Linked DNA regions of Homo sapiens. The protein of the gene in region 1 interacts with the protein of each later gene in a pairwise test. Each region holds a gene or a part of one and is shown on either strand. Other genes may lie near its edges.

Region 1 (3,827 bases):
ATTCTTCACTAACAAAAAATGAGGTGGGAAGAACTAGCTAAATAAGTAAAACTGAAATTACAGGGTATGTATAAGACAATGGGTTTATTTCCTTTAGTTTGTATCAGAAACCCATTAGATCAATGGGCTCTTGCATCTGTGTGATAAACTGCACTGCTGGGACTGGTATCCTGGGCCAGCAGTGCTTGGACAGCGCCTGGAAACGCTGGTATAGTGTGTTCAAGCAAATGCATTGTTCTTGTTTATGCTTCTCATTTATATTATCTACTAAGATACCTTTAAGCAAGGGATATTTAGTCCAGTCACCCCAAAGTCTGATTTTTATGATTTTAAATTTTTGATTGTAAAAACAAGTATAATTTATGACAGTTAATAAATCTAAAAGGAAAAATGATAAGTTCAAGAACATCTTAGGTCATCAAGGTGTTTCTTTCTATGGAAGTAAAAGTAGAGTTTCACTTAATCTTTGTAATCACAGCAGTTAAACATGCTCCATTCTTCAGGGTTTCCTGAAGGTGCCCATCTGGTGGTACCAGCTTCAGGGTCCCTCAGGACACTGGGAGAGTCATCAGGACCAGACCAACTGTACTTCGTCTTGGGGCAGAGTTTGGAGAGCCACTTCCAGCCAAGGTGAGAACAGAATGGGATTTCAGCAGCCAGTGCATCATAAAGAGAAGTAAATTGACTGCCTGTGCTCTGAGAGTCAATTGATATATTTATTTTTAAAACGTAAGATCTTGAAAATCAAGACCTATTAATTTCATAAGTCATTCCAGACATCACATAATAATAACACTGTGCCATTTCTGTACGTGCTCTGTAACCTCTGTAAAGCACTATATATCTTGTTGTTTATTATTATATCAATATATTACACTTTCCAAAGACTTTTATGTATCATCTCTCAAGATCCTCAGGGCAACAGGGGCCCCATTTATCACCACGTACCAGAATATTGAGACTTCATCCAATTCTAATGATGTCATTTTAGCCCACAGGGGCAGAGACCAGGAGTCCACATCCTACATGTCTTCCAATCTTTCTGCCTCAAAACCCTCAGGAACTGCTTCTAGGGCATTTGATATCATCTCACTGACTTCTGAGAAGGAACATAGACAAGTACAAGCATGTTGTCTTACTCAGCACTCAGCCGCACACATCACGATGGGCAGAAGTCACTATCAGTGAGTTCTGTTGCCCTTGTACAAAGAGGAGTTCCACTTCATTATAAAGAAATGGAGCGAGTATATTTTTAATAGGCCCAACTCTTTAGCTATGTTTTTCTTTTTATCAGGCTTTACTTATTTAGTTTTTCTAGTGCCTTGAAGTATATTACTTATATTTCTTTTTAATCTTTTCAGCCTCAGTAATAAAATTAATATAAATGAGTCAAATTCTTATCTCCTTATTCTTTGAAGTTAGGATTATATAGAGAGAGTAATGTTGAATGAGCTATAAAATTGGCATAAAGTTACTTTTTAGTTGGGTTACAGTAGTTCATGTTAACTAATGCTAAAAATGCCTTGGTGATAGAATTCTAGTTACATATAGAATTGGATATAGATTGTAAAAGCATGTTTAATCAGTATGTTTCTACGTGAAAAGTAAATAAAAGGTTCTTTTTTTGGTAATACATCTGTACACAACACATGGGAAATGCACTCATGTGTCACTTAACAACATGAATATGTTTTGAGAAATGCATCGTCAGATGATTTCATCATTATGTGAACACGGTAGAGTGATTTACACAAACCTAGATGGTAGAGCCTCCTACACACCTAGGCTATGTGGTGTAGCCTCTTGCTCATAGGCTACAGACCTGTACAGCAGCTTACTGTATTGAATACTGAAGGCGAATCATAACACAGTGGCAGGTGTTTGTGTATCTAAACAGAAAAAGGTACAGTGAAAATACAGTATTATAATCTTATAGGATCACATCACATGTGTGGTCTTTGACCAAATCATTATGTAGCAGGTGATTATATATTTCATTCTTTAGAATTTCCTAAAATTATCTTTCCGGTAGTGTCAGCCTGTAATTTCCTTAAGACACAAGAGGAACTTCTCATGCACTTAGTTGACTTCTAATCTCTCTGTAATTTCTTGCTATGCATTAGTGGCATGCTCAGCAGTAAAGACAGTTAAGGCAAAAATAAGTGAAGACAGTCTAAATTTAGTTGCCAGCTTTTATATTGTTTTTGATGAGAAAGCATTGTGTTTTTCCCTTTTTTTAAACAAACTTGGAAAGGCCTTCTTATTGTCAAGATTTCCTTATAAATAAACATTTATTGGGCATTTACTATGTGGCACCCATTGTACCAGGAACTGGGGAGACAAGATAGATGGCCTGCCTCCTCTTGAAAATTCTGTTGTTTTGAGGAGGCAGATTAAACGCCTGCACACAGACAGACAGACACACACACACACACACACACACACACACACGAGGAACAGGTTGGGATGAGTGTTATGATGAGGAAACAGGAAGCTAACATACAGAATGCAGCCAGCATATCCTACCCAAAAAGTCCTCTTTGAGGAAGGAGAGAATGTGGAAAAGTACATTCAAGGTAGGGGCATAAGTGTCACAGACCTCTTGGGAGTCTGCCGACAACATGTCCCTGCCTGCTTACCTGCCAGACAGGGCCTCCTCATAAGACTTGGATGCAGAGGCTCTTGAGTGGAATTTTAATAACCTATTTACAATATCAAAACATGGCAATGTATTTCAGAAACACAAAATAAGTTTCAAGTTCCTTGTAAACATCCCGCTCTGTCCTTTGGAAGGTGCTTCTGGGAACGAGCCTGCGCAAGTTTCTCTCCTCTACTTGGGAGACATAGAGATCTCAGAAGATGCCACGCTGGCGGAGCTGAAGTCTCAGGTCAGACTTCTTCCTGCACCATAACTTAGTGGTAATGTGGCTTCTTCCAGTGAGATATTAATATATTCTTCTATCTCCTTTTCCCTCAATTACAGTCTGTTCTGATATGGCATTTGTCATATGCCATGTTCAGTGGTAAGTACCCGCAGGCAATACACGCCCATGGTGCAGACGGCTCCTCGTGGCCTCACTGGTCCCTCCTCTGACAGGCATGCTGTGCTTTTGTTTCAATCTATCCTCAGTGACTTGCGGCTTTTGTTCATTTTTATTTTTTTAGGGAAACATGGTTTCTTGGAACATTTGTAAAGCATTCACTTTATCCCTTTATTTACATTGTTTGTGTACCATTGTGACCCATATGTTAAATGTTGTTATGAAAAGCTGTGTTACCAGTTTTCCAGGAGGTTAGAACTCCAGCTTTTATGTTAGGATGCTAAACTAGATATTCTAGGTATTGTGTTGTTTCTTATGCATTAACGTTCACAGAGAAGGAGGGTTTTATCCAAATGGAAGGGCTGGATTAAGCACAATGCAGTGTTGAAGCAGCATCCGCCTACTGTTGGACTGAAATGAGCATTCCTTTCTTCTCTTAGAGGAGAAAATGTGGGGCCTATATATGACTAGTGGTTGTTGATGTTTGGCTTTTGTGCGCCCTCAGTATATGAAATACCCTTCCTCAAGAAAAAGCATATGTTGGCTGGGTGTGGTGGCTCATGCCTATAATCCCAGCACTTTAGGAGTCTGAGGCAGGCGGATCACTTGAGGTCAGGAGTTTGGGACCAACCTGGCCAACATGGTAAAACCCTGTCTCTGCTAAAAGTACAAAAAAAAAAAAAATTCACCTGGCACGGTGGCAGGCACCTGTAATCCCAGCTACTCGGAGGCTGAGGCAGGAGAATCACTTGAACCCAGGACAGGGAGGTTGCAATGAGCTGAGAT
Region 2 (3,827 bases), about 64 Mb from region 1:
GGTGTCAAAGATACAGATGAAAGATCCGTCTGTGTGTGCCGTGATTTCTCTACAGCATGCATCTTTATTCTTTCAAGCTGTTCTTCGCTCTCCTGCTATTACAGATCTTTACCACTAGATGGCACTAATTTTTCCATTCATCATCCATCTATTCATTATTGGCCAACCAATCATCTAACTAACGTTATTCCCCTCGATGTGTCAGGGATGGTGTTTAATACTGGAGATTGAAAGAAAAAAATGCCACTAGATGGAGCTTCTTAAACATGCCTGCAGGTCCTTTGCAATTGGTACACTATTTGGTCTGCAGGAAGAAATTCAATAAATATATTTGATATTAAACTCTGTATTAATGTATATCATTAGTTTTAATGAATGCATTTGCAGCTATACCAGATATAGCTGTTTGAATCTGGACAAACTGTTTTACTTCTGGGGCTAGAGTCCTCAATAATATTTCTCACTGGGGGCGCTATTGGCATATTGAGTGGGACAGTTCTTTGTGCTACAAAACTGTCCTATGCACTCAGGGAATTTCAGTATTTCTGGTCCCTGTCCACTAAATTCCAGTAGTGTCTCCCCTAATTCAGTGTGACCCCAGAAATCACCTCCCCTCCCCAACACATGTGCACTCACTCCTGGTTGAGAACCGCTAGGATCTGGAATGTCTCTGTTCTAAGATTCTATGACCAATTTTGTGAAGTAATGTAAAGAAATGAAAGTCTAAGAGTAGTTGGAAATTTTACCATTTTATACAATCTTTATTTCTCAAATTTCATAGTCTATAAACATTGATATCTTGGTAACTTGGCAGTCTCATTATCACCTTAAACATTGGTTTCTGTTCTGCTGATTTAAATCAAAATAAAATTTGACCTAAATTGATGCTGAGAAGAGTCTATATCAAGGCTTCTGTACACCTTCTCAAATTCCCTTATTTCTTCTTCTCATGTCACACACACACACACACACACACACACACACACACTCATACACTCACAGACATACATAAATATTGTCTAGAAAGGAATTTTCAGTTTCAGATTTTTCAAGGGACTAAACATTTTTTCTTTAAGCTATATTAAAAATGGATTTTGAAGATTAATTTTCCACAGACACACGGATGCTTGAATGTCATATATTTGGTCCTCCAAGCCTGAGTCAACCCCAAGCTAGTGCCAGATTTATTTTATATTTTCAACATTTTTTCTCAGTCCATCTCTAGTCTAGTGATCTTCTTCACTAAATAGACATTTTCCCCAGCTGGTGCAGGAAGGGGACTGTGGTGGGGAGGCTGTAACCTCTGATCTGCATGTCTGTTATCAGAAACAAAATGTAAACTGACAGTCTCTTTCAAAGGAGAGCAGATCTTCACCAATTGTAGTCCTTTCTTTCTCTTCCCTTTTGTAATACCTTGGTTCCTCCTCTTACTTTTTTACATTAGTGAGGCTGAGACCCTCTAAAATGTGTCTTCCATGTTATGTCCAGGGATCTCACTGTATTTCTTCCCTCCTGGGCACTGAGTTAACAGCCAGCATGCTTTAAAAGCAGTAGAGGCGCTTGGGTGAGATCACCTAGGTTGATTTGAATATGCCAGAGTCCCACAAATGTATCTTTCATCCATAAATATGTTGAAAGACTAACAATTAAAAACATGGGCTGGGCACGGTGGCTCACACCTGTAATCCCAGCTCTTTGGGAGGCCGAGGTGGGTGGATCATGACATCAGGAGTTCAAGACCAACCTGGCCAACATAGTGAAACCCCATCTCTACTAAAAATGCAAAAATTAGCTGAGTGTGGTGGCATATGCCTGTAGTCCCAGCTATTCAGGAGGCTGAGGTGGGAGGATTGCTTGAACCCGGGAGGCAGAGGTTGTAGTGGGCCGAGACTGTGACACTGCACTCCAGCCTAGGCGACAGAGTGAGACTTCATCTCAAAAAAAAAAAAAAAAAGATTCAGTTCTATCATTTTCCAAAAGTTACATTGATATGCATAGGATCCCCCAAGGAGACAAAAATGAAAGTCACCGTCCCTTTCCTCTTGTTAGTAATTGCTTAACTTCAAGTTAGCCATTTCATTTTGAAGCAATGACATCTAAGAGACTTTGGCCCGCCCCACTTAACTGTAAGCGCCCAGAGGCAGGGCTCTGACCTGAATGTCTTCATGTTCCCCTTGGGGGCACTATGTACAAAGCAGGTTCTCACTTGAATGTGGGTTAAAGTGAAGACCTCTTCTACTTCTGTAGCCCTGTGTTCCCCACTCCTCCACAGGCTGGTCCCCTGCTGTCACAGAGTAAGAGACACCCCATAAAACCTGTGGGCTCCCTCAGCTCCTGTTGAGAGTAGGCTGTCTGTTCCCTTGTCTCCCACCAGGTTTTTATCTGGCAGTCAGCATGACAGGCAACTTTTCAGTAAAGCGTGGGCCACGCACCATGGTCCAGGGTGATTATCTTTGGGTTCTCCAGTTTATGGGCCTCTGGGTCCCCTGAGTAATCATTACCTGCCCTTCTACCTGCAAGTTAGTTGTATAATCTTGCTGTGACTCAGCAAGTATAGGATAATAAGTGTACCTACCTCTGGGGTTTGTTAAAAAAAATCAGAAACTTGTAAAACTCTTAGAATAGTTCCTGACACATAGTAAGCACTCAATAAATGTTAGATGTTTTTGTTATTATTATTGTGACACAGGAGGGAATGATGAAGGGAGAAGGGATACTCTTGAGTTGACCAAAGAATGTTACTTTAGGGAATAAGAGTTACAGTTTGGCTTTGCCATCTCCACCCAATTTTCAGGCAGCCCCAGAAATCTCTTTTTCTCCAGATGCATCTTGTGCATGTCTGTTTTATGTGTTCTCTCTGTACTGAGGTAACCAGGTGATTTGCTTGTAGATACTATGGCACAAATTCTATAATATATAAATTTGAAGTCAAAGAAGTGTTTAAAACCATTCGATTAAAAGAGCCCAGAGTTTCAGTTACTGTTCAGGGACCATAGGAGGAATTGAACAATTTACCATATGGGCTGAATCACATGGTCCCAGGTCCCAAATTGCTTTACCCTTCAGTAAGAAGAAATTTTAAAACTGAGACAGGAGGAAAAGAAACCCACAAAATAATTCCATTACTGAGAGGTTTTTGTTTTCCCCTTTTCATTTAGGTGACAAAATGGAATCTCTTCAAACGAAAATCTAAACAAACTACCAACTTTGAAAATCCAATCTATGCACAGGTAATTTTTAACAATTTTTCTTAGCACAGACATTTTTTCTTAGAAATTATTTGCTTGGTTAAATTGGACACACACTTAGATTATTCTGAGCAGAGTGGCCACAAATAGTCTTCTTTATGAAAAACCGTGTATGGTGACCTTGGGGGAATAAATGGCTGATTCCTGTTACATTGTATTCTTAGATGGAGAACGAGCAAAAGGAAAGTGTTGCTGCGACACCACCTCCATCACCTTCGCTCCCTGCTAAGCCTAAGCCTCCTTCGAGAAGAGACCCAACTCCAACCTATTCTGCAACAGAAGACACTTTTAAAGACACCGCAAATCTTGTTAAAGAAGACTCTGAAGTATAGCTATACCAGCTATTTAGGGAATAATTAGAAACACACTTTTGCACATATATTTTTTACAAACAGATGAAAAAAGTTAACATTCAGTACTTTATGAAAAAAATATATTTTTCCCTGTTTGCCTATAGTTGGAGGTATCCTGTGTGTCTTTTTTTACTTATGCCGTCTCATATTTTTACAAATAATTATCACAATGTACTATATGTATATCTTTGCACTGAAGTTGTCTGAAGGTAATACTATAAATATA

What was found.
Region 2: the proteins of USP40 (region 1) and LRP2 interact in a two-hybrid assay, tested with the Homo sapiens proteins (one study listed by BioGRID).

Annotation. Positions count from the first base shown.
Region 1 is NC_000002.12:233,490,228-233,494,054, reverse strand, and holds part of USP40 (ubiquitin carboxyl-terminal hydrolase 40), read left to right. Parts: intron 1-503; coding exon 504-630; intron 631-2,793; coding exon 2,794-2,888; intron 2,889-2,983; coding exon of another isoform or gene 2,984-3,023; intron 3,024-3,827. UniProt on the Homo sapiens protein: May be catalytically inactive.
Region 2 is NC_000002.12:169,128,416-169,132,242, reverse strand, and holds part of LRP2 (low-density lipoprotein receptor-related protein 2 precursor), read left to right. Parts: intron 1-3,158; coding exon 3,159-3,230; intron 3,231-3,412; coding exon 3,413-3,580; 3' UTR 3,581-3,827. UniProt on the Homo sapiens protein: Multiligand endocytic receptor. Acts together with CUBN to mediate endocytosis of high-density lipoproteins. Mediates receptor-mediated uptake of polybasic drugs such as aprotinin, aminoglycosides and polymyxin B.